Linked DNA regions of Homo sapiens. The protein of the gene in region 4 interacts with the protein of the main gene of each other region in a pairwise test. Each region holds a gene or a part of one and is shown on either strand. Other genes may lie near its edges.

What was found.
Region 1: the proteins of SNAI1 (region 4) and GOLGA6L9 interact in binary tests that used the Homo sapiens proteins (3 or more experiments, as listed by UniProt).
Region 2: the proteins of SNAI1 (region 4) and TRIM5 interact in binary tests that used the Homo sapiens proteins (3 or more experiments, as listed by UniProt).
Region 3: the proteins of SNAI1 (region 4) and TRIM23 interact in binary tests that used the Homo sapiens proteins (3 or more experiments, as listed by UniProt).

The regions. Positions count from the first base shown.
Region 1 is NC_000015.10:82,424,436-82,433,176, reverse strand, and holds the start of GOLGA6L9 (golgin subfamily A member 6-like protein 9), read right to left. Parts: upstream 3,362-8,741; 5' UTR 3,098-3,361; coding exon 3,014-3,097; intron 2,395-3,013; exon of another isoform or gene 2,283-2,394; intron 1,348-2,282; coding exon 1,228-1,347; exon of another isoform or gene 606-1,227; coding exon 546-605; exon of another isoform or gene 361-545; coding exon 280-360; intron 1-279.
Region 2 is NC_000011.10:5,681,240-5,690,529, forward strand, and holds the start of TRIM5 (tripartite motif-containing protein 5), read right to left. Parts: upstream 3,836-9,290; 5' UTR 3,629-3,835; intron 1-3,628.
Region 3 is NC_000005.10:65,592,441-65,600,795, reverse strand, and holds part of TRIM23 (E3 ubiquitin-protein ligase TRIM23), read left to right. Parts: intron 1-3,615; coding exon 3,616-3,745; intron 3,746-4,264; coding exon 4,265-4,375; intron 4,376-6,150; coding exon 6,151-6,275; intron 6,276-8,355.
Region 4 is NC_000020.11:49,985,595-49,990,356, reverse strand, and holds the end of SNAI1 (zinc finger protein SNAI1), read right to left. Parts: intron 2,486-4,762; coding exon 2,301-2,485; 3' UTR 1,471-2,300; downstream 1-1,470. UniProt on the Homo sapiens protein: Involved in induction of the epithelial to mesenchymal transition (EMT), formation and maintenance of embryonic mesoderm, growth arrest, survival and cell migration.

The DNA.
Region 1 (8,741 bases), on a different chromosome or scaffold from region 4:
GTCAGGCTAGTGCTTCCCAGAGAGGTGACAACCCCAGGGCATGTGTGGCAAGGACTAGAGCAGGGGTGTCTGGAGAAGAGAGAGTCAGCAAAGAGGGCAGTGCAGAAGAGCCATGCTGCATGTTCTGTGCTCTGGGGTCCCTCCAGGTGAGACCTGGGTGCCCAGCTCCCCATTTGCCCTTGGCATCAGGGGCCCCTAGCCCCTTTCTTCAGGGCCCCAAGAGGAAACTGGAGTCCAGGATTGACCAGCTGTAATCAGGGGACCCCACTGGACTCTTACCAGTGAATTGATGTTTTCAGTGAGTTGACTGATTATTGCGGAGCTTGAATCCAGGGCTACTGCTAGTTCTTGGTACTGGCTCTGAGGTGCATGCAGAGAGAAGGAGTTGGAGAAAGATTGTGGGGAGGGGTAGAGAGAATAATCATTAGGGCTGGTGGGGGTGTGTGGGCTGCCTCAGCTGGCAGAGGGGCAACAAGCCCCTGCTGTGGGAGGAGGTTGGAGGGCTGGCCTGCAGGGTCACTGCACCTCGGCCCAGGGCCTCTTACCTCCAGATCCTGCAGGGTAGTAGAGGATGCACGGCCCTCCCCGTAGATACCTGTTGCTGACTCCAAGAGATGAGAGTGCACATGGAGATGTTCTGTCCCCCCTCACTGTCTAAGCCCTCTGACTTCCTTTCTTCCCCCATCAACTGGCAAAAGCTTCTTTTCTGCCTATCTTGGAACCTTTTTCCCATAACTCCTTTGTGCCAACTTCTCTCGTGGTTCTTATCTCCCCACCATCCCACCCTGGGGCCCTTTCAGTGACTCCTAAAGGGACAGCCTGATGGCAAGTGGCTCTTCTCATTGGCCTGGCTTCCCCTTGAGACTGGGGATGAGGAAAATCAAACAGCAACGACCATTTCCTCGGTGTCCTGGGTGTTTGCAGCAGGCCATGTACTAAGGATTCACATAAAAGCAACAATAACGAATCTCATTTAAACTTCACAAATGGAAGTCAAAAAATACCACCTCTATTATACAGATGTGAAAAGAGAGGCCCAAAGACCTCAAGCAACTTGCCCTAAATCATATGCTAATCAATCCCTAATCAATTCTTAGCAGACGGAGAGGCAGGATTCAAATCCAGAATTCTTAACCAGTACCCAACAGTCCATCTACAATCTTAACAATTACCCTCTACTGCCCCTTGGGCTCCCTGTCCCCAGGAGCCTGGCCCGCCGAGACTCACATCCCCAGGTGAGTGGTAACCACCAGAAGTGAATGTGTCAGGGCTACTGCCATTGATTTTCTTTTTCCTGTTAGCTCCTGCTGGAATGCCAGGGCTCTTCCTCTGCCAATATGCTTTTAACTGTGGGAAAGAAGAGCAGTAACACTCATGAGAATGATCAGCCCCTACAGCCACATCCTCCTTTACAGTTTTGACAAAATACCCTTATATACCATCTGATGTAATGCCACCAACAACTGTACAAGGTGTTGTCACAATCACTTAGTGACTGAGAGGGATTGATATCATGGATAGAAAAAAAAAAAAAGAAAGATCAAAAAAGGCAATACTGGAACTTAAACTCAGTCCTCTGACTCCAAGCTCTGGGGTTTTGCCATGAATCAGCAGCTTCCAGGGACCAAAACCAGGGGCAGAGGTAGAAAAGCACACATTAAGCAGGCAGGAACTGTAGGCCGTGTGGTTTAGAGTCATACATCCTCACAGGTCTGCTAGCGTGAAGAAGCGTACCAGTACCTCTCACACTTTCATATCAATGTGTCCTCATGGCAGAAGGCAGCTTTTCTATTAAATCTGGGAATTTATCAGAAAGAGGACAACCCAAGCCTCATTTCAGAGCGAAGTCTGGTATACGCTTGGAAACCTATGTGTCTGTCATCCCTAAGTACATTAATGCATTTTCTCAAGAGAATCAAGGGAAAATGATGCTTCAGAAAGATGTCCCGCATTTATCCTGTGGCACTCAAAGTACCCCAGGTTGAGACGATATGAGGAAGATTCAAGCTGTCAAGTTCAGTTTCCCAAGATCTATTCCACAGAAGATGAGCAAATCTCACTTCAGAGGCCACTGACTGAAGGGCAGTCTGGTCCCAGAACCGTGGAGAACTCAGAAAAAAATGTTAAAGTCTCTCTGGAAAGTAGAAGCCTGGGAAAAAACCAAACCAAACCCATTCTCCCATTGCCACCCAGAGATACTGTGAACATTTTGAGCTCACAGGGGAAGTGTAGGCTTTTCCCACTGTCAATGTCTATGTTAAGGGAGTAAGGCAGCCTGAAACCTCTTGCTCCTAGGTCCCATAGTCTCCACTCCCCTTCCAGCTGGAAATTTGTGCTGCAACCAGAGGAACCAGAAATGGGGTGAGAAAACTTAGGGGACTGGGTTGTAAGATCAAAGGCCGGTCTTGCAGCAGTAATGACAGTTCCTAGGGGCACTGTGACATCATTGCATTCCACTCCTCCCAGGGGAGGGGACCACATCAGCGCGATGCCCGAGTCGCTGCTCCACGATGGGGGAGGGAAACACACGGTTTCGACCCAGGTCCTCAGAGACGCCAGCCCAAGAAGCCTAGGGAGGTCGAGCTTGGGGCAGCAGGAGGGGAGGGCAGAGTCTGCAGTAGGGAGCCCCGGGAGTCACCAGCCCAAAGCCACCCAGGGATGACTGGTGAGGGCAGGGCCTGGGGCTGGGGGACCCAGGTCCTGGGAGACGCAAGCCCAAAGAGCCCAGGGAGGTTGGGCTTGGGGTGGCAGGAGGTGAGGGCTGATTATGGAGCAGGGAGCCCCAGGAGTCACCTGCCCAAAGTCACCCTGGGGTGATTGGCAAGGGCAGGGACTGGGCTGCTTGCTGAAGGGGTGGGGCTGACTGACTAGGCTTTGGTTGGGGGAGCCCAGAGGGGCTGGGGTTGGGGGGCCCCATCTGGTATGCCTCAGGAGTGGTATGGACTCTGGCACCGGTCTTGTCATCGGAGGGGATCTGTGGCTGGGTTGGGGGCCATGACCTGGTGTGTTTTACCTTTTTCTTGGCTGCGGCCAATTTCCCCTGTTGTGTTTTTTCTGACATCGCGGGGTGGGGAGGGAGGCGGGGTTGGGGCCACATCAGCGAAATACCAGTGAGCACTGCTCAATGCCTCCAGTCACCTACCAGGCAGCTGTGCAACTGAGCCACAGGTGGCGTAACCAGGGCACCAATGGAACGCAGAATAGGGGCGTGGCCTTAATGTTCCAAGCCCATTGGTCAGTGAGAAAGATGAAAGGGAAAGGAGGCGTGGCCAGGCGCAGCATGTCCAGAGGGACCTGTAGCATCATAAGGAAAGCTGCCCATGCAACCGCTGTCCCCGCCCACTCAGAGAGAGGGGAGAGGCCGCCCACTCTGGGAGAGGGGAGGGGCTGGCTTTTGCTTTAAAAGCTTTAAAACTGTTAAAAATAAACTTTAAAAAATATATGTGTATATACTTTATATATGTGTGTCTGTGTGTATCTATGTGTTCCTCCAGAGCTGTCTTCATTATGCAGCTTCTATGCAAAGTCTATGATTTTGGCCTATATTTTTCATCTTCAAATGGAGCACAAGAATTACAAGTATTACCTTAACTGAGATATAGACCCTATAAAAATGGAAAATCCATAGCATTCTTGATGATTAATGAAGCTGACTATAGTATCCGACATTCCAATAACAGAGAATAATCACAACAATTTCTCTTTTTTGGAAAAATGTTTGTCTTATTCTCCTACATTATTGTTAAGATTTCTTTTAAAAACAAGAAACATGTCTAATATCTTTAAAAACACAAAGCTTTTGGGCCAGGTGCGGTGGCTCACCCCTGTAATGCCATCACTTTGGGAGGCCGAGGTGGGTGGATGACCTGAGGTCAGGAGTTCGAGACCAGCCTGGCCAACATGAAGAAACCCTGTCTCTACTAAAAATACAAAAACTAACCAGGTGTGGTGGTGGGTGCTTGTAATCCCAGCTATTTGGGAGGCTGAGGCAGGAGAATCACTTGAACCCAGGAGATGGAGGTTGCAGTGAGCCAAGCTCATGCCACTGCACTCCAGCCTGGGTGACAGAGCAAGACTCCATCTCAAAAGAAATAAAATAAAATAAAATAAGATACAAAATAAGTAGGAACACAAAACTTACAATTTAATAAGCACTTAAAGCTCTTTACTGGTTTAAAACAAATACAAGGCCCATTTTTCTAGAATCACCAGGCCACTCTAGGCCTTGCAAATGAAACTGAATTTCTCACTTGATACCTGGCTATGACTTGCAATCATGAAAACCAAGAATTGTGTTATGTCACTGTGTACTGCTTGTTACCTGAAATCCACACTAGGCTGGGATCAAGGGTTGAATCTTTCATGATTTTTCTCCATAACCTGTGTGCTTCTTATCCCAGACTGAACTAAGCTTTTTTCTAGAGTTCTACAATTTACACTTAATAGACAAGAGTGGTTCTCAAAATGTAGTCTATGGACTAGCAGCACCAGCAGCACCTGAGACCTTTTTATAAGTGCAAATTCTCAGGCCCCACCCTGGACCTGGTGAATCAGAAACTCTGGAGTAGGGTTCAGCAATCTGTGCTGCAGTAATCCCTCCAAGTGTTCAAGAACCTCTGGCATACAGCAGGTAGAAAAATGTGTTTCCTTCTGTAGGTCCAAAGCCAGGGTTACCATATGTTCTGCCTTGTTATGAAACAATGACATGCAATTAAAAGACAAGAATCTCCTTCCTACTCGCACCCTCCATCCAATGTGTTTTATTTGTATGAGTTCCATAAGAAAAACAAGCGGCAATCAGAGATTTAGTCTAAAAAGTATGTTTACAAGTGTCCGTTCTCATCCAGCCTGATCTCCTACAAAACCGTTTACATCCTCTTACATCTCAAGTTTTAAAAAAGTATCTTCACAATGTAAGACTCACGCACACTAGCAGTTCTATAATAAAACACCAAGTAGATCAGAATGTCCAACCTTACTAGAGAAGAAAAGTGGAATCATTGGCTATATTTTCAAATTGCATTCAACAGGAAATTTAAGTTTTGAATTTTTTTCACCTTTATACTTCCAAAGTAATAGAATTAAACCAGAATACGCCATTCTTTCAAAGCCTCTAGCCAGGCAAAGTTTTACTGTATTATTTCTTGCTTTCAATGGATATAAAGCAGATTCCTGGTAGGCACATTCTGTATACCTGCAAAGATGCAGAACTAAACAGTTCCATCTGTTCAATATTAAACCAAAAGTCCTGTAGACCTCGAATGGTGAGTGTAATACTTCAGCACTAGCCCAAAACCTCAAATATGAAAAGATACCAAGAACACCACTAGCAAACAAAACTAAACTCTCAGTCAGGAGCAGGAGCTGACACCTGTAATCCCAGCACTTTGGCAAGCCGAGGTGGGAGGATTACTTGAAGTCAGGAGTTCAAGACTAGCCTGGGCAGCATAAAGAATTCACATCTCCACAAAAATTTTTGAACATTAGCTGGGTGTGGTGGCACACAGCTGTAGTCCTAGCTACTTGGCAGGCTGAGGTGGGAAAATTGCTTGAGGCGAGGAGTTCAAGGCTGCAGTAGCTATGATTATGGCACTGCACTCCAGTCTGGGTGACACAGCGAGACTTAGATAATTACATTTTCTCCTGCTCCTGTTTACACTAAAATCACGAAGTTAAAAGGCTTTCAAATTTGGCAGGATAAAAATTAAGTGAAATGTGACTTTGGAGCTTGGCTAGTGAAAGAAAGAAAGAAAAAAAAGGGAAGAAGGAGGGAGGGAGGGAATAAAGAGAAAGAAAGGAAAGGAAGAAAGAGAGAGAGGGAAAGAAGAAAGAAAAAGAGAGAAAGAAAAAGAAAGAGGAAAGAAAGAGAGGGAGGGAGGGAGGGAAAAGAAAAGAAAGTAAGAATGGAAAGCAAGAAAGAAAAGGAAAGCAAGGAAGGAAGAAGAAGAAAGAAAGAAACAAGGAAAAGAAAGAAAGGGAAAGGAAAGGAAAAAGAAAAGAAGAAAAAATGAAATGACAAATTACTTACTGGGAGAAAGTTTTGTCACCTCAATGACAGATAAAAGGCTTGTATCCTTAGACTATAAAGAAATCTTTAAAATTACTGAGAAAAAAAAACAAATGATTTTCAACCGAAAATGGGCAATGGAGAAACTGGCACTTCTCACAAGAATAAAAATGGCCAGTGGCATATACAAAGATTCAAAAGCACAAGAAATCAAAGAAATGTCATGAAAACAATGAGATTTTCTGTATAAAGGCAGGAAAGATGACAAATGGAAAGGGGAACCTGGAGCTCTGTCCTTGTTGGTGGGAGTATAACCTGAGTCACTTTTCCTGGAGAATGATTTGAAAATTTCTATTAAAAACCCTAAAAATTATTTTCCTCCAGAAATTCTACTTCTATGAATTCAGTCCAAAAATGTTTGCTCGAGCCCATTAAAATGTGTGTATAAGAAAATTCACCTCTGGGGTGGCAGTGATTAACTTAATATACATCCAGCTATTAAAAATGATGATGCCAGGATATATTTACTGCCACAGAAATATGCCCAAAATATAGTAAGTGACAAAAGACTACATACTACGATTCTACTTTTTAAAAGGTTTATGTGCATAAAAACGTATAAAAAGCAACAAACCACAATGTTTTGAGTGGCAAATTAAAGATTTTTCTTAATATTTGTCATCCAAATTATTACAAAAAGAATGATTTCCTTTATAATGAGGGAGAATTGTTATTTTCATTTATTTATATTTAAATATCTTTTCTTTTTCTGATTTTGTTTTCTCCTGTATGTATCCCATGTAGGCTAGAATCCCTGCCTCTTGAGGTAAATCAGCCCATTTTTGGGAAGTGCGCTACAGAAAGCTGCCCCAGCTTCCTTTTAAGAGATCTGGAGACATTTTTTATTTCAAATTGTTTTATCGTTCTCAGATTATTTTGTTTAATATATGAAATTGAGGAAAAGACAAAGGAAAGGCTGACTCCCTACCCTCCTGGGGCTACTCTTCCAATTTTTGCTGCTATTGTTATATATTAATATTCACTGGGTACTAAAAAGATGGGCAGCCCCTTAGATCATTTGTTCTTATCTCTTTCTCATAATCCTACTTCATTCCTTCATTCACTTATTTTTAAAAAGGTCATGTGTACAAACACATGGTTCAGAAAATTTTTAAATATAACTACCTATAAAAGTATGTGGCCAAATCCCATTCACAGTCTTATTCTCCTTCTACAGCCAAACACTTTTAATTGGTTTCTTATATATCATTTCAGAATTTATGTTTGCAAATACACACGTATATTCTTATTCTACTCTTCTCTCTCAACACAAAAAGTAGCATACCATACATACTATACCATTCCTTGTTCCTCTTAAAACACACACAATATATGTGAGTTCTTCTACATGAGTACAGAGGTCTTTGTCATTCTTCTTTACAACCGCACAGTATTCATCGTTTGGATGTACCACAGTTTACTTAACCAGTTCCCTGTTGGTGGACACTGAAGTCATCCCTATCATACTATTACAAACAATAATGCCAAGCATAACCACCCACATACCAAGTTCATTTCTGAATCTGCCTTTGATGAAGCCTCTATTTGAATCACCACAAGGTCACAAGGCTGAAAAGTTAGCCAATTTTTTAGTTTTCATTATGTACAGCAGTATGTAGCAAAAGACTCCCTTGGGCAAAGCAAATGTGCTCTTTGGGGATTTACTGCATAACAATAAATGGATTAACACCAAGGAGAAATATTTCTATTTAACCATGCACATGTATGTATATAATACATGCATATGCATAGATAGTATACAATAAATCCATCAAAGCATTAAGCATTGTCTCAGTATGGTGGATCTATGGAGTGCTTTGTAGACAGCCCTCCTTGCCTATCAATTCTTTCTAGTTTCAAAACAGTGAATATGTACTATTTTTGCAATATAAAATTTCAATAAATGTTAACTCAAGCCAGGTACATTCCTTCAGTCTGTCCTATATTTGTATGGTGCTCCAGAGTGCTCAAATATCATTTCATTAAAAAAATTTACTTATTTTTTTTCAAATATAGAAACAGGCAGGGCTTTGCTCTGTTGACCAGGCTGGTCTTGAACTCCTAGATCCTCCTGGATCCTCCCACTTCCACCTCCCAAAGTGCCGGTATTACAAGTGGGAGCCATCCGGCCCGGCCGGCTTCATTTGAGAAATATTTCCCCAGAACTCCATATATTATGAATAATTCCTTTCTTCTTGTTTAGATACCATCTTAGTCATATCTCTGTTACCTCACTTGTCACATGATAATCAGTTGCTCACCCATCCATCTCCCTTGATTGCTCGAGAAGAGTCTGATTTTCAGCACCTTGAACAGTGTGCAATACATACATGCTTCATACGCAGAGAAGGAAATGATATCACTACAGTGTAATTATTCCCAGAATTCAATGCCCGTATTTGTAAATTGTTCCAGATACTCTGCCAACAACCTGAGAATGTTATGTGTTTTCCCTAAAACTTCCATCGATTACTGAGTGTCTACGGTCATAGTTAACTCAGTTGCGATCTGACCTCTGGCCAAGCCCATTCATAGCTTGTATTATAGGTGATTTTTAATTTTAATTTTTGATTTTGATAGTTTCCTTTTTGTTTTTTTAATCTAGCAGTGTTTGGTAAACTTCAACATCTCTATATCCCTGTGTCTTTGCACCTACTGGTCTCTGCTTGGAATA
Region 2 (9,290 bases), on a different chromosome or scaffold from region 4:
AGGGTCGGCTGCTGCTTCTTGCGGCCCAATAACGAGATGCAGATTTACTGGGAAAGAAGCGAATTTTTATTTCTGCGTACAGGGAGAAGGCCTAGAAAATATCTCCAGACCAACTCAAAATTACAAAGTTTTCCAGAGCTTATATACCTTCTAAGCTATACGTCTACGTATAGGTGTGCATTATTCATCTAAAAACATAAGTGATTAACTTCTTCAAATCTATAACTAAGGTCTGAGTTTTAAGACCTTCCTCTGGTGCCTCAGTAAATTTACCTAATCTAGATGGGTCCGGGTGCTGGGGTGATTACCCTTATCTTGTCTCTCCTGCTAAATCATTAAGGTTTGCGGAGTTCCTTCAGACCCTCAATAAACTTGTTTGTGGAGGCCTGGGAGTTCCTTCAGACCCCCATAAAACTTGTTTAATCCTAAACAGGTCCTAATCGATTCCTTCGTTATCTTGTCATGCTTCAAGGCCCAGGAAAGGCCTGGGCAAAACTCTCAGTGGGCTTCTGTTACATTCCAGCCTTTGTATAAGGGCACTGGCTCTATCAGCTTTTAATATTTTTTTTTCTTTTTTGAGACGGAGTCTTGCTCTGTCGCCCAGGCTGGAGTGCAATGGCACAATCTCGGCTCACCACAACCTCTGCCTCCCAGGTTCCAGTGACTCCTCTGCCCCAGCCTCCCGAGCAGCTGGGACCACAGGCACGCACCACCACACCCGGCTAATTTTTGTATTTTTGGTACAGATGGGGTTTCACCATATTGGCCAGTCTGGTCTCCAACTCCTGACCTTGTGATCCACCTGCCTCGGCCTCCTAAAGTGCTGGGATTACAGGCGTGAGCCACCGTGCCCGGCTTCAGCTTTTAATATTTAACTTAACCAGACGGGTGTGGTGGCTCACGCTTGTAATCCTAGTACTTTGGGAGGCCAAGGCAGGCGGATCACCTGAGGCTGGGAGTTCAAGACCAGCCTGGCCAACATGGTGAAATTCTGTCTCTACTAAAAATACAAAATGAGCTGAGCTTGGTGACAGGTGCCTGTAATCCCAGCTACTTGGGTATTCTTTCCACATGCTTCTCCTGCTCTTCGTATCTCACCTAAGCTCTGCTTTTGGGGGGCAGATACGGCCCACGGAGAGGGAGGAGCAAGGTTAATGATTTTTAAGAAAATCCAGTAGTTCCCTGAGTCTGGACTTGGTGCCCTAGTAGAGGCAAACAGATGCTGTCACCAGGGAAGCCCTGATGAAATGACTGGGAAAGTTATTTTTCTTAACGTTTTTCTTTATTCCCTTTATGTATAGACAAAGTTGCTTAAGAAGAAGCCAGACTGCCCAGCATGGTCCAGATCTTGACCCCTGACCAGATCCAAGGGGGAAATTAGACCCCCGAACCAGCGTATATACTGGAACTGACAATCCCTAATTGCCTTTAGATCATTAACATATCACTAGAGTGTTAAGTTACCCCCTCCCCCACACGACACCAAACAAGAAAATCTCCACCATTTTGTGTGCCTGGGTTGTATTGAGAGGTGACAGCATGCTGGCAGTCCTTGCAGCCCTCACTCGCTCTTGGCGCCTCCTCTGCCTGGGCTCCCACTTTGGCGGCACTTGAGGAGCTCTTCAGCCCACCGCTGCACTGTGGGAGCCCCTTTCTGGGCTGGCCAAGGCCGGAGCTGGCTCCCTCAGCTTGCAGGGAGGTGTGGAGGGAGAGGGGCGAGCGGGAACCGGGGCTGCGCGCCGCGCTTGTGGGCCAGCTGGAGTTCCGGGTGGGCGTGGGCTTGGTGGGCCCCGCACTCGGAGTGGCCGGCCGGCCCCGCTGCCCCGGGCAGTGAGCGGCTTAGCACCTGGGCCAGCAGCTGCTGTGCTCAATTTCTCGCCGGGCCTTAGCTGCCTCCCCGCGGGGCAGAGCTCAGGACCTGCAGCCCACCATGCCTGAGCCTCCCCACGACCCCTTGGGCTCCTGTGCTGCGCGAGCGTCCCTGACGAGCACCGCCCCCTGCTCCACGGCGCCCAGTCCCATCACCACCCAAGGGCTGAGGAGTGCAGGTGCGTGGCATGGCACAGGACTGGCAGGCAGCTCCACCTGCGGCCCGGTGCAGGATCCACTGCGTGAAGCCAGTGGGGTTCCTGAGTCTGGTGGGGACTTGCAGAACCTTTATGTTTAGCTAAGGGATTGTAAATGCACCAATCAGCACCCTGTGTCTAGCTCAGGGTTTGTGAATGCACCAATCGACACTCTATATCTAGCTACTCTGGTGGGGACTTGGAGAAACTTTATGTCTAGCGAAGGGATTGTAAATACACCAATCGGCACTCTGTATCTAGCTCAAGGTTTGTAAACACACCAATCAGCACCCTGTGTCTAGCTCGGGGTTTGTGAATGCACCAATCGACACTCTGTATCTAGCTACTCTGGTGGGGATGTGGAGAATCTTTGTGTCTACACTCTGTATCTAGCTAATCTAGTGGGGACTGGAGAACTTTTGTGTCTAGCTCAGGGATTGTAAATGCACCAATCAGTGCCCTGTCAAAACAGACCACTCGGCTCTCTGTAAAATGGACCAATCAGGAGGATGTGGGTGGGGCCAGATAAGAGAATAAAAGCAGGCTGCCTGAGCCAGCAGTGGCAACCTGCGCTGGTCCCCTTCCACACTATGGACGCTTTGTTATTTTCCTCTTTGCAATAAATCTTAATACTGCTCACTCTTTGGGTCCACACTGCCTTTATGAGCTGTAACACTCACCGCGAAGGTCTGCAGCTTCCCTCCTGAGCCAGCGAGACCACGAACCCACCAGAAAGAAGAAACTCTGAACACATCCGAACATCAGAAGGAAGAAACTCCGGACATGCCGCCTTTAAGAACTGTAACACTCACTGCAAGCGTCCGCGGCTTCATTCTTGAAGTCAGTGAGACCAAGAACCCACCAATTCCGGACACAGTATGAAGACATGTGTTTATAAACAGAGGTGGCACAACTGGAGTTCCACCCTATAGGCTAACACTCCTTTCTCTCCCCGTACTCAGTTCTTTTAAAGCCAATGCTTTCCACTGTTTTGGGGGAGGGGGCTTTAGAGAAGGAGCTCTCTTACTCTCCACTCCTAGCAAGAAATAAAACCTGCTTGCCTTTTTTCCCATTATCTTTGTAACCAATATGAACTAGGGAAAGAACTCCATTTACAGTGACAATGACAGGACTACAGAACTGGACAGCTGTCACACCATGAAGGCTGATGTCACAGAGCCAGGCCAAGGTGATGAGAACTGACCTGTAGAGTTATGCAGAAACACTACATTAGTAAACTAATAGGCATTAAATCATTAGGATTCCAAGGCCCCTGTCTTTGCCCTTGTTGTTGGGAGAAGACACTGAAAGAGAGAATTCTGGCTCTCTACAGCAAAGTTCAATTAAAAAGTATAGAGTAGGGAGGGGATGGGGAGAGAGTCAGCATGGAAAAATAACCAGCCTTCGGGAAACAAAGCCCTTCACTTTAAAGCTCTCCCTTCTTTCAAATCTGCCTGCCCGCCAGGCGGCTCTGTTCCCCTCAGTCAGCTCTGGCAGCAAGAAGTCTGTGAACTGTGTCTTTTCCCCACCCCCGCACAGCTTTTCAGATAAGTTAAACTCACCAAGGTAAATACAGTTTTGTCCCAAAGACTTCCTACTTCTGCCCTCCACAAAATCACTCAATACACCTTCAGACACCAGTGCAGAAGTGGTGATTCTGGGGAGAAGAGTGAAGACAGGCCAGGGAAGACGTGGTTAGGATTCACTCACCAATCCACGGGCCTGATCTGCACAAAGGAATTTTCCTAGAGGAACCGCAGGAAATTCTTGCTCACACTCAGGGCAGGAAAGTGAAAGATAAACTATGGGCCAATGGCATTTCTCCACGTAGGGCCTGGTGAGTCCCGCCCTCTGAATGAATCAGCCGGGCCGTGTAGCTGTGCTGTTCACAGGAGGAGCCGTGGGAACTAGAGGCATTCCCACTCAATCTCCCTTTTCTCTTGAGTCTCAGGATCTTGTTATCATGCCACTTCTTCTGACATAGTTTCAGATTAACCCAGCCAAGTATTAAAAATTAGAAAAGGTGCCCTTTTTCGAAATTCTTCCAATGTGCTCCTCTTGCTCCTGATCTCACAGCTGAGTTCTGCTTCTGGGTGACAGATATGGCCCAAAGAGAAGGAAGAACAAAGTTAATGATTTTTAGAGAATTGCAGTAGATTTCTGGTCTGGACTTAAAAATCTTATAGGACCTATGAACAGAAAAGGAGCTGCAGGTAGGAGAGATGTCATATTATTAAGACTCCGAAACCCAGAGAGGACAGGATGCTAGAAATTTATCTGGAGAGGGCCGGGCGCGGTGGCTCACGCCTGTAATGCCAGCACTTTGGGAGGCTGAGGCGGGCGGATCACAACGTCAGGAGATCGAGACCATCCTGGCTAACACGGTGAAAACCCATCTCTAATAAAATAAAATAAAATAAAATAAAATAAAAAATTAGCCGGGCATGGTGGCGGGTGCCTGTGGTCCCAGCTATTCCGGAGGCTGAGGCAGCAAAATGGCGTGAACCCGGGAGGCGGAGCTTGCAGTGAGCAGAGATCGCGCCACTGCACTCCAGCCTGGGCGACAGAGTGAGACTCCGTCTCAAAAAAAAAAAAAAAAAAAAAAAAAAAAAGAAGTTTATCTGGAGAGCGATAAAGAAATACCACATTATTTCTTTCAACTATTCACTTTCAAAGAACTCTCCAACTTCCCGCTGTTGTCTTTTCCAAAGTATCTATTGCATCCCTGAGCAGGGCCAGGCCTTCCTCTCTCTTCTCTTCTGGTTACTATGCAAAACTGGTCCAAAAGGCTGAACTGTGGTCCATGTACCATAGCCTCCCTTCTAAGCTTTCCCTTACTGGAACATCTCAGGAAGTCCACACTGGAACTAGGATCATTGGTAGAGAGGAGTATTTAGTTTGAAAATGAAAATGCCTCAGGAGAAGGCAATGGGGAGCACTGCAGTGGGCAGCCTGTTATCACTTAATTCCATCATCAGTAACCTCATACCCCCTCCACACTGTACCCCCGCAGCTTTCTGTTTCATGAAATCAGGTAGGGGGCTTTTGCATTTTGTTCTTTATTGTCTCAGATTTACTAGAATATGGTGTATATAAGGAGTAATATTTAAATAGATATGAAGATATATAGCTATTAATCTAATTTTAATTGAATATCTTGATGTCACATTTCTGTTCTATTCTTGCTGTAAAGATAACTGCTGTGTCACCTAGTTTAATTCAAATATTCTTCTGGCATTAGTAATAATTATGTGGCAGTAATAATTATAGTAATAATTATAATAATTAGTATTATTAATAATTACAATTATTAATAGTTACAATTATAATTAATATTACTAATTGTTATTTAGTAATAATTATGTGGCATTAGTAATAATTATGTAATGATTACATTTGCAGTGGCTCACACCTGTAATCCTCGCACTTCGGGAGACCAAGGCGGGTGGATCACTTGAGGTCAGGAATTTGAGACCAGCCTGACCAACATGGTGAAACCTCATCTCTACGAAAAATACAAAAATTAGCCAGGTGTAATGGCAGATGCCTGTAATCCCAGCTACTCAGGAGGGTGAGGAAGGAGAATTGCGTGAACCCGGGAGGTGGAGGTTGAAGTGAGCCGAGATCATGCCACTGCACTCCAGCCTGGGCAATAGAGTGAGACTCTGTCTCAAAAAAAAAAAAAAAAAAAAAAAAAAAAAAAAAAAAAAAAAGTAATTATGTAAATTTTTAAACAAATTTTAAACGATTTTTTAAAATATCCTCTCTGTTTTCTTCCTAAGTATTATTCAGACTCTAACCATATTTACTCTTATTTTGCTCTTTTTCTTGAAGAGAAAAATGTTAAATATCCATGGACCCAAAGGTAGAGATATTTCATTTGATTCCTTTTCAAGCAGGAAAGCAGGATATATAAGGTTTACAGGCTGGGCGCGGTGGCTCACGCCTGTAATCCCAGCACTTTGGGAGGCCAAGGTGGGTGGATCATGAGGTCAGGAGATTGAGACCATCCTGGCTAACAAGGTGAAACCCCGTCTCTACTAAAAATACAAAAAATTAGCCAGGCGCGGTGGCGGGCGCCTGTAGTCCCAGCTACTCGGGAGGCTGAGGCAGGAGAATGGCGTGAACCCGGGAAGCGGAGCTTGCAGTGAGCCGAGATCGCACCACTGCAGTCCGCAGTCCGGCCTGGGCGACAGAGCGAGACTCCGTCTCAAAAAAAAAAAAAAAAAAAAGGGTTTACAGAGAAAACACAGAGCTCCAACAATAATATATTTTTTCTACAATTTAGAACATAGGTTAGAATATGGAGCCTGCCAACATGCTCTACTCTGGTGATAAACTGTGTGTGGTGCATTCAGTTTTTCTATTGGCCCACGTTTTCTGGTATCTTGTCAGGACCTAATATTACTACTGTTTTCTCTCAGCTGCAATTAATACTTCATGAGATAAATCAGACCAGGATGAAAGTTCACTTCAGATGTTCAAAGCCAGACGAGAATAAAAGGATGGCTATGAGATCTATGGAAGTGCTGAGAAGGGAAGAAATAATGGACAGAGAACAGGTCTCTGGATAAATGAGTTCATTCACTTTGTCCATTGTGGTTGACACTCGGACTCCACTCTGTGCACTCCAGAAAAAACACATTCACTCACTGAGCGCTCACTCCCCTACAAATGTCAACAAGATATTCTATTCAAACATGGAATATACCTAAAATTACATCTCTTGCTTATTTATCTTCAAGAAGAAATAAGAAAATTTCACGCCTGTCTTAGTCAAGGTTCATCATAGCAATAGAACCACTAAACTATGAATTTATTTGGAAAGAAACTTGAGAAATGTCTCAGGTGATTCTGGAGACTGGCAAATCCAAAGTCTGCAAGGTAGGCCAAGAGGCTCTGGATCCAAGAAGGAGTCAACGTTATAGCTCACGCCTGAGGTTTGCCTGCTGGTAATATTCCCTCTTCTCGGGGAGAAGTCAGTTTTTTCTTCTATTCTGGCTTTCAGCTGATTGAATAAGGTCCTCATAGATATAAGTGAGTAGGAAAGAATTTATAGCCAGGATTAGCTTATTATTCTGTGAGCAACAAATAATACCAAAATATCTATTATTGAAATAATAAACATTGATTTCTCAGTCATCCTACATGTGTATCATTGATTAAAGTATGAAGATGGCCATGCTCCATAGTGTCAGTCAGGGATCCATGTTATGGAAGCTCCATGAGTTGCCTTTTTTTTTCTTTTTTTTTGGGTGTGTGTGTGTATGTGTTGTGTGGTGTTTGTTTGTTTGTTTTTTGTAGAGACAGGGTCTTACTATGTCACCCAGGCTGCAGTGCTATGGTGCAATGACGCAATCTTGGCTCAATGCAACCTCCACCTCCTGGGCTCAAGCCATCCTCCCATCTCAGTTTCCTGAGTAGCTGGGACTACAGGTGCACATCACCACACCCAGCTATTTTTTTTTTTTTAATTTTTCTTAGAGATGGGATTTCACCATGTTGCCCAGGCTGGTGTTGAAGTCCTGGACTCAAGTGATCCACCCACCTGGGCCTCCCAGAGTGCTGGGATTACAGGCATGAGACACCACAGGCCTCCATCAGTTTTTGATGGCATTATCTGGCACATGCAGTTAAACAAGAATACAATAGACAACAGGGTACAGAAGTATGTGCATGACGTATAACATGTTTCAGTGCTGCTTTTTAATTGATTGTGTAAAAATGACCAAACTTTTCTTAGAGAAGCAGGGAAAAGTGGAAAAATTATGAAGGCATGAGAGTAACTCAATGAATGATTATAATTAAACAGCATCATCTGTTAACTTCCATGTTCTCACCTGCCTCAGTGGCTGGGTAACATGACACTGACACAGTTTTACCTCTATTACTCTCTGGAATCCATCCTCATCTGGTCTGTCTGGATTAGGAGCAGGAAGTGATAATTAATTGATGGACTCTTAAGATTTAATGACATTTTGAGAACATTTTTTTCAATGGGCTCACACTAAAGATCCTTTTATTTATAAAAATAATTTTTTTACCATTCACAATGTCAGCTGCTAATACTCATCTTGTCAGCCCAAATTTGTAGAGCTTTATAACTGAGTATCTTCCTCGTCAGACTGCATTTCAAGAAGCTAGGTCCCAAGTCTCTGGATCTTTATTTTCCTGGCTTAGGTCTTAAATATAAGATAAATTCGACTAATAATTATAGGACTGCATTGGAATTCTAAGTATTCAGGCAAGCTGTATAACTGTAATTCACATTCTTTTTATTCAAATATTCTTGCTTGAGTAAACCACAGTAAGAATAAGGAAGTAGTGACTGAGTGCCTTGCCAGTACAGCAGATGCTAGAACATAATGTAGCATTACTTTCCCCAGGGTTTATTGTTATGTAAGTTCTTGTTCAGCTTCCTTTGTTTTCTTTCACTTCTGAGAATTTAACTTTCGTTTCTCACTCAGCTCCTGTGGGGAAACTCATTTGTGGAGACCAGCCCTCTGGCTTGGTGAGTGAATCTGGTTTACACCGGCTCCTGCCCTGCCTTCACTCTTCTCCCCTGATTCAAGACTCCTCTGCTTTGGACTGAAGGTGAGTGGAGCAATCTGTGGGAGCATAGAATGGGAGGCTTTGAGAAGAATAGATTGATTGTGTCTGGGTGAGTTTAATTTGTAGTTCTGAAGCTGCTCTGCATAAACAAAAAGAGGCAGCTTGTGAACTGTCTGCTGAGATGGCAGAGGAAGAAAGCACTGAGTCTGGGAGAGGGGTAACCTTTAAAGAAGAGAGGTTTGCAAAAGCAAAAAGCCTTGCTTGTTTCCTAGAGGGACCATTCATTTCTTCAATCTAGGTACCTCCATCACCTTCCTTGTTGGAAATAAAGCTCAGAATCTTAAGGGAGACGAGCACTCAAACAAAGGATTTCTCAGCAAAGCAATTTTATTTCTGTGCAGAGGGGTGCTTCTTCTTTGCCAGTCGCCATGAGAGCACACTAGAACAAAGGAGGAAGAAAGTTTTTATTCCTGACGCAAATCCTACCCCTTTGCCCTTTCCCCATTGGCTGGAGTCGGCCACACAATCTAAACTAGACTCAGTTGGCTAAACATTTTAACTTTCTTTAGATAAGGTGGGCACGTGAGGGAGAGAGGGGAGATGGGGAAGGGGTGTGTGTGATGAGCTAGATAACTAATCTTCTTCCAAAATAAGGAAAGGAATGTGAGTTGG
Region 3 (8,355 bases), on a different chromosome or scaffold from region 4:
GAATTGTAGGAGTTCTTTGTATATTCTGGATATTAATTCCCTATCAGATCTGTGACTTTCAAATATTTTCTCCCATTTCATAGGTCAATTTTTCACTCTGTTGATTTTGTCATTTTATGCACAAAAATTGTAAATTTGATGTAGTCTATTTTTGCTTTTTTTTTTTTTTTTTTACTGTGCTTTTCGTGTATCCCTGAAGTCACTCTCAAATGCAATGTCATGAGGCTTTTCCTCTGTTTTTTCTTCTAGGAGTTTTATGGTTTGGGGTCTTAAGTTTATGGCCATTTTGAGTTAATTTTTTTAGGTGGTGTAAGATACATAACATCCTTTTGCATGTAGATATCCAGTTTCCCCAGCATCATTTATTGAAGAGACTGTCTTTTCATTGAGTGGTCCTGCACCCTTGTTGAAGATCATGTGACCCTATTCCTGAGGGTTTATTTCTGGGCTCTCTCTTCTGTTCTGTTGGTTTGTATGTCTCATCTTTATGCCAGTACCACATAGTTTTCATTATTGTAGCTGATATGGCTTGGATCTATGTTCCTGCCCAAATCTCATTTCCAGTTGTAATCCCCAATGTTGAAATGGGGCCTGGTTGGAGGTGACTGGATCATGGGGGCAGTTTCTCATGAATGGTTTAGTATCATCCCCCTTGGTACTGTCTTTGCCATAATAGGTGAGTTCTCATGAGATCTGGTCGTTTAAAAGTGTGTGGCACCTCCCCCACCCTCTCTCTTGCTCCTGCTCCTGCCATGTGAAATGCCTCACTCCCTCTTTGCTTTCCACCATGATTGTAAGTTTCCTGAGGCTTTCCCTGAAGCCAAGCTGATGCCAGCATCATGCTTCCTGTACTGCCTGTGGAACTGTGAGCCAATTAAACTTTTCTTTATAAATTACCCAGTCTCAGGTATTTCTTTATAGCAGTGCAAAAACAGAACAATACATTAGCTTTGTAATATATTTTGAAGTAAGGAAGTGTGAGTCCTCCAACTTTTTTCTTTTTCAAAATTGTTTTGGCTATTCAGGGTCACTTGAGCTTCCTTATAAATTTTAGCTTAATTTTTTCTATCTCCACAAAAAACATGATTGGGATTTTGATAGGGATTGCATTGAATCTATATAAATTACCTGGGCTGTTATTCATATCTTAATATTTTATGTCTTTCAATCCATGGACATGGAATGTCTATTTATGTCTTAATTTATTTTAGCAATATTTGTAGTTTTTAGTGTACAAGTCTTTCACCATCTTGGTTAGGTGTACGCCTACATATTAGGTTGGTGCAAAAGTAATAGTGGTTTTTGCCATTAAAAGTACTGGCAAAAGCCGCAGTTGCTTTTGCACCAACATAGTATCTTAAGTCTTTCACCATCTTGGTTGAGTTTATTCCTAAGTATCTTAAACTTTTTTTTCTGTACATGTTCAGAGAAACTTCTTTAGTCATAAACTATAAAAATGATCCCTGAAAGTATAATTTTGATGCTATTTTAAGTAGAATTGTTTCCTTAATTTCCTTTTGGGATTTTTATCATTAATGTATAGAAATGCAACTGATTTTCATGTTGATTTTATATCCTGAAACTTTGTTGACTTTATTCTAATAGGTCTTTTTGTGTGGACTCTTCAGGGTTTTCTACATACAAGATCATGTCATCTGTGAAGAGATATAATTTTACATCTTCCTTTACAATTTGGATGTCTTTTATTATTCTTCTTGCCTAATTGCTCTGTGGGCATCTTCTTGTTCTTTATCTTAGAGAAAAAGCTTTCAGTTTTTTGAGTATGATGTTAGCTGTGGGCATTTCTTATATGGTGTATGTTAACTGAGGCAGTTTCCTGCTACTCCTAGTTTGTTGAATGTTTTTATTATGAAAGGGTATTGAATTTTGTTAAATGCTTTTTCTGCAACTATTGAGATGATTACGTGCTTTTTTTCTCTCATTCTGTGTATTATGCTGATTGATGATGAATAATTCTTGCCTTCCAGTTATAAAGCCCATTTGGTCATGGCGTACAATCCCTTTAATATGTGTTTTTTTTTTTTTTGAGGCGGAGTTTCGCTCTTGTTGCCCAGGCTGGAGTGCAATGGCGCGATCTCGGCTCACTGCATTCTCCACCTTCCGGGTTCAAGCGATTCTTCTGCCTCAGCCTCCTTGTAGCTGAGATTACAGGCGTGCGCCACCATGCCTGGGTAATTTTGTATTTTTAGTAGAGACGGGGTTTCTCTATGTTGGTCAGGCTGGTCTCGAACTCCTAACCTCAGGTGATCCACCCCCAACCTCGGCCTCCCGAAGTGCTGGGATTACAGGCATGAGCCACCACGCCCGGCCTAATGTGTTGTTGAATTCAGTTTGCTAGTATTTTGTAGTTTCCTCCTGGTTGCACCTCATCCTCACTATGTTGGATATGGGGAAGGGCAGGGATGAGTGCACAGAATGCCCCAAATTTTATTACCCCTTTCACTGGAATGCCTTCTTGGTTTTATGGCCTGGGTGCTGTAGTTTCTTAACTGTTCTCTAGAGTTCTCACAGAAGTAGTTCTGTTCCATATATTGTTTTATTTCTGAGGTGTATAACTGGACTTAAGTATAGATTTGGAGCCATAATATACATGGTAATTAAAGCTCATGAAGAGAATGAAAATATGTAGAATGAGAAGGAGGCCTCATATAGACCCTCAAGAATACCAACATTTAAGAGCTGGATTAAAGAAAAATTAGAAGGAACATCCAAAAATGGGATAAAACCAAACCAGGAAAAGTTTGTATCATAAAATCCAAGCAAAGAGTGCTCAAAGGAGTAAGCAAAAATAACACATATATTTTGGGAACTGTTGTAAGGACTTTTATATGTATTCTTAAAAATTAATCCTTTCAAGAATCCTATGTAAATTTTGTACTATTTTAATCCTCCTTTTATGAGATGAAAGAAGTGAAGCAGAGAAATCATGCAGCTAGTAATATATAAAAATGTTCATTATAGCATTATTTGTAATATCATAAAATCAGAAATTACCTAAAATCTATCAGTTGGGGGTTTAGTTAAATTGTGGTTTATGAAATGTAAAGAAGCCATTAAAAGAAAAAGGTTGGTCAATATGTATTGACAGGATTCCATAATATACTGTTGAGTGAAACACATTAGTTTCAATGTGTGGGTAATACTTTTTTAAAAAAAAATTTGTTTTGTTTGTGTATGTTGGCCAGTATGTGCATGGAAAGTGTCTGGAGGGATATACATCAGATTCATAGTAGAAATTTCTGGGAATTGAGCAGCACTTTTTCATTTTAATTGATTTACCCTTATTGTGATTTTTTTAGTATAGCATAAAAACATGTTTAAGATTTAGAGGATTCATTTGAGTTAGAAAATCTGAGAAAATTAAGTGGGTATGTATATTCTGTTATACAAAGACAAAGTGGTCAGTTTTACTAAGGCAAGATTTAGCCATGGGGAAGGATTTCATCTTCTTGAGATCAGACTCAGTATTTTGAGGAATACAATTCAGATTGCAATGGTTGAGGAATGAATAGGAGATGTAGAAATAATAAAGGTGCTAAATGCTATTACTTTCTAACTGCATGTCAAACATATTTAAAAATATTTAAATTGTAGGATAATCGAGTTCACATTGGACCAAAAATGGAAATTCGGGTCGTTACGTTAGGATTGGATGGTGCTGGAAAAACTACTATCTTGTTTAAGTTAAAACAGGATGAATTCATGCAGCCCATTCCAACAATTGGTAAGTATGAATATTGGTTTTTACCTTAATAGACAAACCCTAGCTTACAGCCAAGTTCTTGGGGTCTTATTTGATACTGATCTGTCATGGTGGTGGGCTCTTTTCTGGCTCTAAGATATCAGCATCTCAGAGAAAAAATGCAAGATTGTATGACTATGGGATTGAAATGTGGATGGGGATAAAAAGAAGAAACAGAGTATTGGTGGGACAGTTGGAAGGAATAGAGGATTGGTGATCCTGGCTGAGGGTGTGGGGTGGGGGGTAGTTGTGGAACAGAGCTGGAAGGTACATGGATCCCAAGGTCCTAAGGACCTTGGTGGAGGTTTAGAGGGCTAGGAGCTGTTACAGGTATACATTCACCACGTAGGAGTAGGAATGGGGTTGATTAGGCTTCAGTAGATATTGCTGCATGTAGATAATTTGATAAGTCACAGTTATAAACTGGGGGTTGTCTGTGTTTGATATGTCATTCATTGTAAATACAAATATAGTATAAAAGTAACTTTTTTTTTAAAACAGGTTTTAACGTGGAAACTGTAGAATATAAAAATCTAAAATTCACTATTTGGGATGTAGGTGGAAAACACAAATTAAGACCATTGTGGAAACATTATTACCTCAATACTCAAGGTGAGAGTTAAAAATGACATTTAATTTTTCACATTTTTAGGATGACAGTTTTCAGTGTACTGATTTAACTAGCAAAGCTGATACTTATGATTAAGTCGTTGACTGTATACTTAAGTACCTGTGGCCAGTTTCTTAACTTGTAAAAAATGAAAGTAGAAAGATTAGGATATATACTTTTAGTTTATTCCTGATATACCATTATTACAGAATAAAAACCATACGTAGCTTAGATATGTAGTCAGTTAAGAGTACTCTTGCTTCTCTTAACAGAGAGTGTATATTACCAGTATTATATGGGTGTGACTGCTGGTAGCGTAGTGGTATAGAGTTGAATTTATGTTGTATGATTCTGCTGAATTCAGTTAAACTCAACATTTATCCCATTATAATCTCACTATAGCCCCACTCCCACATTTCTTTCACAAATAGTTATTACCTGCAGAAGAACTTACAGTAGCTTGCTTTTGACCAAACCGTATTATATCATATCTATACTCTACATAGGTTTTAGTCACATTTGGGTCTTACTCTACACTTCTGCCTCATAGACCCCAACATAATGCTTACGCTCATGCCGCTTATTCTGTATGTTATTCTGCTTTCCACCAAGATGAGAGACTGAATAATTATTTTTACTTTGGGATTTTTGATATTATTATGAGCCATAATTAATAGAAAAAATGTATTTTTTTTTTGAGACAGAATCTTGCTTTGTTGCCCAGGCAGGAGTACAGTGGCATGATTGCATTTCATGGTCACCTCTGTCTCCTGGGCTCAAGCAATCTTCCCACCTTAACTTCCCAAGTAGTTAGGACTAGGTATATGCCACCACATTCAGCTAATTTTTTTTTTTTTTTTTTTTTGAGATCGAGTCTTGCTCTGTCGCCCAGGATGGAGTGCAGTGGTGCGATCTCGGCTCACTGCAAGCTCCGCCTCCCAGGTTCACGCCATTCTCCTGCCTCAGCCTCCTGAGTAGCTGGGACTACAGGTGCCCACCACCATGCCTGGCTAATTTTTTTGTATTTTTAGTAGAGACGGGGTTTCACCATGTTAGCCAGGATGGTCTCCATCTCCTGACCTCGTGATCCGCCCGTCTTGGCCTCCCAAAGTGCTGGGATTAGAGGCACGAGCCACCGCGCCCGGCCACATTCAGCTAATTTTTAATTTTTTTTTAATAGAGATAAGGTCTCACTATATTGCCCAGGGGTCTCGAACTCCTGGGCTCAAGTGATCCTCTCACCTCAGCCTCCCAAAGTGCTGGGATTATAGGTGTGAGCCACTGTGCCCTACAAAAATGAAATTTTGAATATGAGGAATGGTTGAAAGTCTGGAGATAGTTAACTTAGACATAATACTTTGGAGAAATAAAAATGGTGATGGTTTTTATCTTTTAGTCTTTTATTCAAAGACTAAATATTAGAAAAGTAGTATTCGAAGAACAAGTAGCATCCATAGGTAGAGGATCATGAGGCATATTTTGAAATTCGTTATGTAAAAAGTTATTTGATATACAGACCAATTTGCATTTGATAGAGCAAGTGTTGTAAATCCTTTCCTAGATGGGGAAACTAAACCTGAGAAGTTATGTAAACTACTTGAAATCATACTGTTAATTATTTGTAGGTGCCCCTGCCATACTAGGCACCCTCTGTGTGAAAATAATGATGGTAGACAAACTCTAACCATAACATAATAATGATATCATTAAATATTTGGTTCATTTACTGAACTTTAGCAAGTGACTATTTTTGTTTTTTTTATTTTTTTTTGGGTAGCTGTTGTGTTTGTTGTAGATAGCAGTCATAGAGACAGAATTAGTGAAGCACACAGCGAACTTGCAAAGTTGTTAACGGAAAAAGAACTCCGAGATGCTCTGCTCCTGATTTTTGCTAACAAACAGGTAATGCATTTTTATATTGGAATATTTATTTTAGTAGTTTTGTGCATGTCAAAAGGCAACTGGAAATATTTCAGAAGACAATCAGTTCAATAGATATTTATAGTTTCTTCTGTGTATTTTGAGTACAATCTATGTGAAAATGCTGTGCTGGGTACCTGGGAGTATACAAAATAGAAATAAGGTAGTTAATGCTCACCAGAAACTCCTGTGTATGCATATGAACACATAAGAGATCTGAATACGAAGAAGACTGATAAGTAACTTAAGTAACACAGTGTTACGGGAATTAGGAAAGTAGTTCTAAATGTGGCATGTTGTAAGATTGTAAAATGTAGAATTTGAGTTGAAATTATGCATGAGGCTGAGTCAGTATGTGAAAGGAAGAACATTATAGACAGAGAAGATAATAGCATGAATGTTTTTAGTTTAGGGAACATCAAGCAGATCTATATGTCAGGTCTCAGTAGAGGATGAAGAGAATTTAGAATAACAGACAAGGCCATGCTGTAAAGGTCTGACAGTGCTAGACTGAGAAATTTAGGTTTTATTCTATGAGCAAGGAGGAGTCATCAAAATGTTGGATTAGTGGGTAATAAGATCATATCAGTGTTTCAATACTATAATTCTAGGGGTAGAATGAATCAGGGCAAAGGACTGGAGACAGGGAGATGCAGTAAATTGCTTAAATAATTCAAGTGAGCATTAACAAGAGCCTGAATTAGAGGAATAGAAAGGCGGAGGCAGATGGAAAAGACTTTGAGGCAGAACTGGTGACTGAATGGGGAGGATGAAGGACTGGGAGTAGCTGAAGATTCCTAGACCTTGAGCCTTTCTAGGAGGATGAGATGCTTTTAAGTAGAGGCAGAAGGAGAGTAGAAGTGGAGCAGAGGAGATGTCATGGGAGGGGAAGAGTAGGATGAAGAATAAAGAATTTTCCCCTTAATAAAAAAGGCAAACTATTAAGAACTGGTATATTTAAGACATGCAAATAAGTCAGTGAAATACCATTTTCTGCTCATCAGATAGTTAAAGATGAAAGTGTTTTATAATCCTCAGACTTATATACAACTGTTACTATTATTATTTTGAGACTGAGTCTTGCTCTGTCACCAGGCTGGAGTGCAGTGGCACAACCTCTGCTCACTGCAACCTCCCCCTCCTAGGTTCAAGCGATTCTTCTGCCTCAGCCTCCCAAGTAGCTGGGATTACAGGTGCTTGCTACCACACCCGGCTAACTTTTGTATTTTTAGTAGATTCAGGGTTTCATCGTGTTGGTCAGGCTGGTCTCAAACTCCTGACCTCAAGTGATCTGCCCGCCTCATCCTCCCAAAGTGCTGGGATTACAGGTGTGAGTCACTGCGCCTGGTCAACACTGTTCGTGGGTTATTAAACTGAGACATTTTCTTGGAGGACAATTTGGCAATACTCATCAAAGTCCCTTACCCTGCAATTCTACCTTTATATATCTGGTAGACAGATATCCAAAGGTTATCCTACAGATAATTTTGCAAATATACATAAATGTATGTCAACTTTTGTGTATGTATGTTTATGTATGTATGTGTATATATATGGATTTATAATAGCACATAAGCATAAAACTTCAATCTGAACATTCAGTATAGGACTGGTTAAATTATGTTGCAGCCACACAATGGAAGGGAATTCTGATATTAAAAATAATGCAGACCATCTGTGCTGATAATGGAAAGATACTCATCTTCAACATGTTTACGTAAAAAACAAACAGAAAACCCTGCAAGTTATAGAAAGTCTAAACTATGTTCCTGTTTGTGTCTCTTTGCATGAGTGTGCATGGAAATTTTCTGGAAAAATATGTTGTAACTGGTGGTTGCTCCTGGGAAGTTGGGGCAATGGGTGTTCAGAGTGGGAATGTAGTGAACTCTTCAATATATAACCCTATATATAAACCATTTATTAAGGTTTCTATGTGTTAATTTTTTTTTTTTAAGTTGATGCCTTACACTTAGGCAGGCCAGGCGTGGTGGCTCATGCCTGCAATCCTTGCATTTTGGGAGGCTGAGGTTGGTGGATCACTTGAGGTCAGGAGTTCGAGACC
Region 4 (4,762 bases):
ATCACTTGTTTGCTTTCTCTCTCCCCGACCAGAACATACGTCCCATGAACGCAGGGATGGCCTGTCTTGTTCACGGGTGTAACCCCAGGGCCTGGCACATATGGTACCCTCGAAACCCCTGAATGAATGAATGCCTCTGTACAGTCTCCGAGAGGAAGGCACTACTGTCACCCTGTTTTATAGACACAGAAACTGGGGCCCCCAGAGGGAGAGAGCCTTGCTCCAGGTGCCCTGAGAGTCAGCGGCATGAGCCCAGCCTACCGAACTCCCAGGATGACCTGAGGGGCCGGGCTTGGTGACCTCAGGCAAGCCCACCTCTGTGCCTCATTTTCCGGAGGCCCGACCCCCAGGGATTATGTGAAGTCATGAAATCATTCATTCAGCACCTACTGTGGGTGGATGGAGACGACCTAGAGGGACCCGCAGGGACCCAGGACACAGTAGGCCTTCAGCTCATGGATGCCCAACCCCCATCCCCCCAACTCCCTAACTTCCCTTCAGGGAGGCAGGCCACAATTTGGCGATTGTTAGAGAACGTTTTTTTTTTTCCTTTTGGGAGGAAAGCTGCAAGTCATTAAGGGCTGCTCCCGGCCTGCGGGTCACCATTTCCTGTTTAGAAGAAAGAATCATCTCTCCTTTGGAACATGAAGCTCCCCCCACCCCCAGCCTGACTCTGGGGCTCCGAAGCTCTGGGACGCCTCAGCTCCTCACAGGAAACTGGCACCTCCAGCACCTTTTGTGTTCAAAAAGGACACTCATTTTCTCCTGGCCCCAAGAGGCCCCCAGTGGTGAGGTCACCACCATCGGCTGGCGGGGAATGAATTACCCTAGCCCAAGACGCATGCTGACCGTCCCGCCGTCCTCGGAGCAGGAAGCTGAGTGACCCCTACCCTTTGGCCTGGCTTCTCACCCTACTGGCTCCAGCCAGCCAATTTCCTCGCATCAAAGGCCATTTGGTACCCAGCAGCAAGACGGAGGTGTGGGACTGACAAGGAGGCCCAAGGGGGCCTGGAGCCCTTGGAAACAGGAAGGACATCCTCTGTCTCCTTGGTCGCATTCCACTCGCATCTGGGGGAAGCGGACAATCCCACCCCAAAAGACCTGCAGTGCTGGGGCAGAGCTTTGCAGCCTGTCTAGTTGATAAGACCCAGGAAGCCAGCTTTGCACTCCGTGGGCCAGATCAACTTCAAAATTCAAGAACGAGAAAGTAAAAAGCCACAGTGTATAGTGAAGAGCTCGTATGGATGCCGCTGGCTCACCCAAACAGCAGCAGACAGGACACCCAGGCCAACGGGAAAACCCAGTCTCATAAGGTCCCTGACAGTGACACCCAGGACTCCAAAGCCCTATGATGTTTCCAAGGACAAGATTTAAGGCTGTGTCAGAAATATCTAAGCTTCAGGAATTCCTGTCCCCTCCTCCCTTACCAAAGACCTTTCAAAATACCCACTCCTCTATGACACCAAAGACTTTTTAATATATAAATTAACTGCTTTATTGAATATCAATAAACTGTACATATAACTATACAAAACGTTTCCTTGATACAAAATGTTTGAAATATAAATACCAGTGTACCTTTAAAAATGTAAACATCTTCCTCCCAGGCCCACCTGTCGGGCCCCCAGAATAGTTCTGGGAGACACATCGGTCAGACCAGAGCACCCCACTTGGGCCCCCGACAAGTGACAGCCATTACTCACAGTCCCTTTTCAGACATTGTTAAATTGCCCGGGAAACAGGTGCCACCCCACCAAACAGGAGGCTGAAATAGCTGCCTGGGCTCGGGGCATCTCAGACTCTAGTCTGCCACCGCCTCCGCAGGCCCTGGGGCTGCACCTGGGGGTGGATTATTGCATAGTTAGTCACACCTCGTGGAGGGTGGCCTGAGGGTTCCTTGTGGGGGGGTGTGTGTGAGGGGAGTGGGGTCCCCTGAGTGGGGTGGGAGCTTCCCAGTGAGTCTGTCAGCCTTTGTCCTGTAGCTCAAAGCAGCTGTATCCAAACAGCTCTGGATACAAAAACCCACGCAGACAGGCCAGCTCAGGAATCCCCCAGGGCTGGGGGCCAGCTGCCCTCCCTCCACAGAAATGGCCATGGGAAGGCCTCTTCCAGAGCCCAGGCAGAGGACACAGAACCAGAAAATGGTCTTCATCAAAGTCCTGTGGGGCTGATGTGGCCAGAAGTGGGGCACTCAGGAGGGAATTCCATGGCAGTGAGAAGGATGTGGGGTCCTTCCTGCTGGAGCTGGGGAAGGCTGTCAGGCAGGGGCAGGTATGGAGAGGAAGAGGGAGCCTCGAGGGTCAGCGGGGACATCCTGAGCAGCCGGACTCTTGGTGCTTGTGGAGCAGGGACATTCGGGAGAAGGTCCGAGCACACGCCTGGCACTGGTACTTCTTGACATCTGAGTGGGTCTGGAGGTGGGCCCGCAGGTTGGAGCGGTCAGCGAAGGCACGGCTGCAGTGGGGACAGGAGAAGGGCTTCTCGCCTGGGGAGAGAACGCCAGAAAGGCCGAGTGAGCCGTGGGACAACGGCTGGCAGTGATGGGAATCCCTCCCCGCATACCCCAAACCCTGAAAGAATCCCATGATCCCAGGAAAGCCAGGCCTCCGTCAAACACACAGCCAGGGTCCAAAGGCCGGGACCTGACGGAGCTCTGCTGCTTCCCACTGTGCAACTCTGAGCAAGTTGTCTGGCTTCTCTGAGCCTCCATTTTCCCACCTGTAAAATGGGGCTATTCACCCCCCACTCATAGGGGTTGATAAGTGACAGAAGGTAGGGTACTCATCCACATCCCGCAGGGACGTGCGAAGTGGTCAACAATGACTCAACACCTTTACTGATTCATCCTACTGTCACTTGATCCTACTGTGGTCTCATTTCAGAGACAGTGAAACTGAGGCCCAGAAGTAGCATGTTCAGGTTCCCCTGGCAGGACCCCAAAGCCTCTGATTTCACCTACTGCCCTTACTGCCTTCAGTCAAGGGAGGACGTGACTGGTGTCCTTACCATCAGTCCTGGAGTCATTCCTTGATTTACTCTGTTGGGGGCCAAAGCCAGAGTCAGCCTTAAGAGGCTTCCCCACCCCCACCTCCAAGCTGGTTAGGCCACTCCTGGGGCCCGGCCAGCAGCCTGCTTTCCTCACCACCCCACCTCCTGCGCTGTAATCCCAAATCTCCTTGTCTGTTCTCCAATCAGGCTGAGTCCCATAAGGGCAAGGGCCTCCTTTGAGTCCCTTCTGAGCCCCAGCCCAGGGCCTGGGCCCCTTTCTATCACCCAAGAGGCTACGGAAACCTGTGGCCCTGACACACCATCTGCCTGGCCAAGGCTGTGTTGGGAAAAGTCTTGCACATGGAGCTGGGTGCCCAGTAAATCCTCAACAAGCCCTTAGAGAATAAATAAGTCTGTTTTAAAAATTAAAGAGGCCTCAGAGGAGTCTGCCCCCTCACTCATGCCTCATAACAATCCCTGCTCCAACCAAAAAGCTATATAGTTCCAAAAACACCAATAATGTTGATTTGTTTTTTTCTGGGGGATGCAGCATTTTCCAAATAAAAGGTCATAACAGTAACCCATTAAACAAAAATCTATTGAGGCTGGGTGTGGTGGCTCACGCTTGTAATCCCATCACTCTGGGAGGCCGAGTGAGGCAGGATTGCTTGAAGCCAGGAGTTTGAGACAAGCCTAGGCGATAAAGCAAGACCCTGTCTATAATTTTTTTTTTAATCTACTGAGCTCCTACTAAGTGCTAGACACTATTCCATAATACTGAATAGTCTTTTTAAAAAACATGCAATTCTCCAATCCCCTCACGCCCAGTCTGATATGCCCGCAAGGTCAGGGCCCGCCTGTGAAATCCCAGCGCTGGATGGAATTTAAGAGCTGAGAGTGAATTCATTCCATCACCTCCTGGGTGCCTAGGGTGCCACACTGAGCTACCAGGGTAGGAGAGAGTCCAGAGGATGGCTCCAATGGGACCCATGCATTCAATAGGGACTTATGGAGCGCCTGAGAGCTGGACTCAGTCTCATGGGGCAGAAATGGAAACTCGCCACTCCAAAGGGTGGGGGACATAGAGGATTGGGGGAGGGGTGCCTGAGCACTACTCCACTCTGCCATTACTCAGCAGCCTCCACACGCCACGCCTGAAGGGTTTGTTGATTGCATTCTAAGTCTTCATGTGAATGAGAAGGGTAAGTTCACCCTTGTGAACTAAGGGCTGACTCTGGAGATCTGGAAAAGGGGCTGGAGTCCATTTGTAAGACCAGAGTTAGGACAGCACCTCCCTTCCCTTCCCAGGGCTGTTGGTGAAGTCCTGAGCACTACCCTCCTGTACAGTAAGTGCCCAAAGTGTGATGAGACCTGAACCCAAACAAAAGGGGAAGGAGACATTCTAGGACATGATGGGCTGGGGGCGGGGGCTGTGTGCACACGCAGGAGGCACAGACCCCCACTCCTTGGATCCCTCGCCCCCCAGACGCCTTCATGGTACTCCTGGCAAGTGTGAAATCGGCACCAGGCCGGCGGGGACAAAGGGCGCCGAGGGGGGCACTGTACATGCGATATCCCCGGATTAAAGGGGCCTGCCATGCAGTGGGCCAGCAGCTGTGACTGGAACAGGTGCTGGGCACCGCTGCCCCATGCACCTGCTCCACCCCTCCCAGCCCCCACCCACTGGGCCCACCATTAAGGCACACAATGGGAGTCAATGAGGACCGCAATGATACATTTCAAGGGGATTTCTGTGTCTCAGCCATGCCTTTAC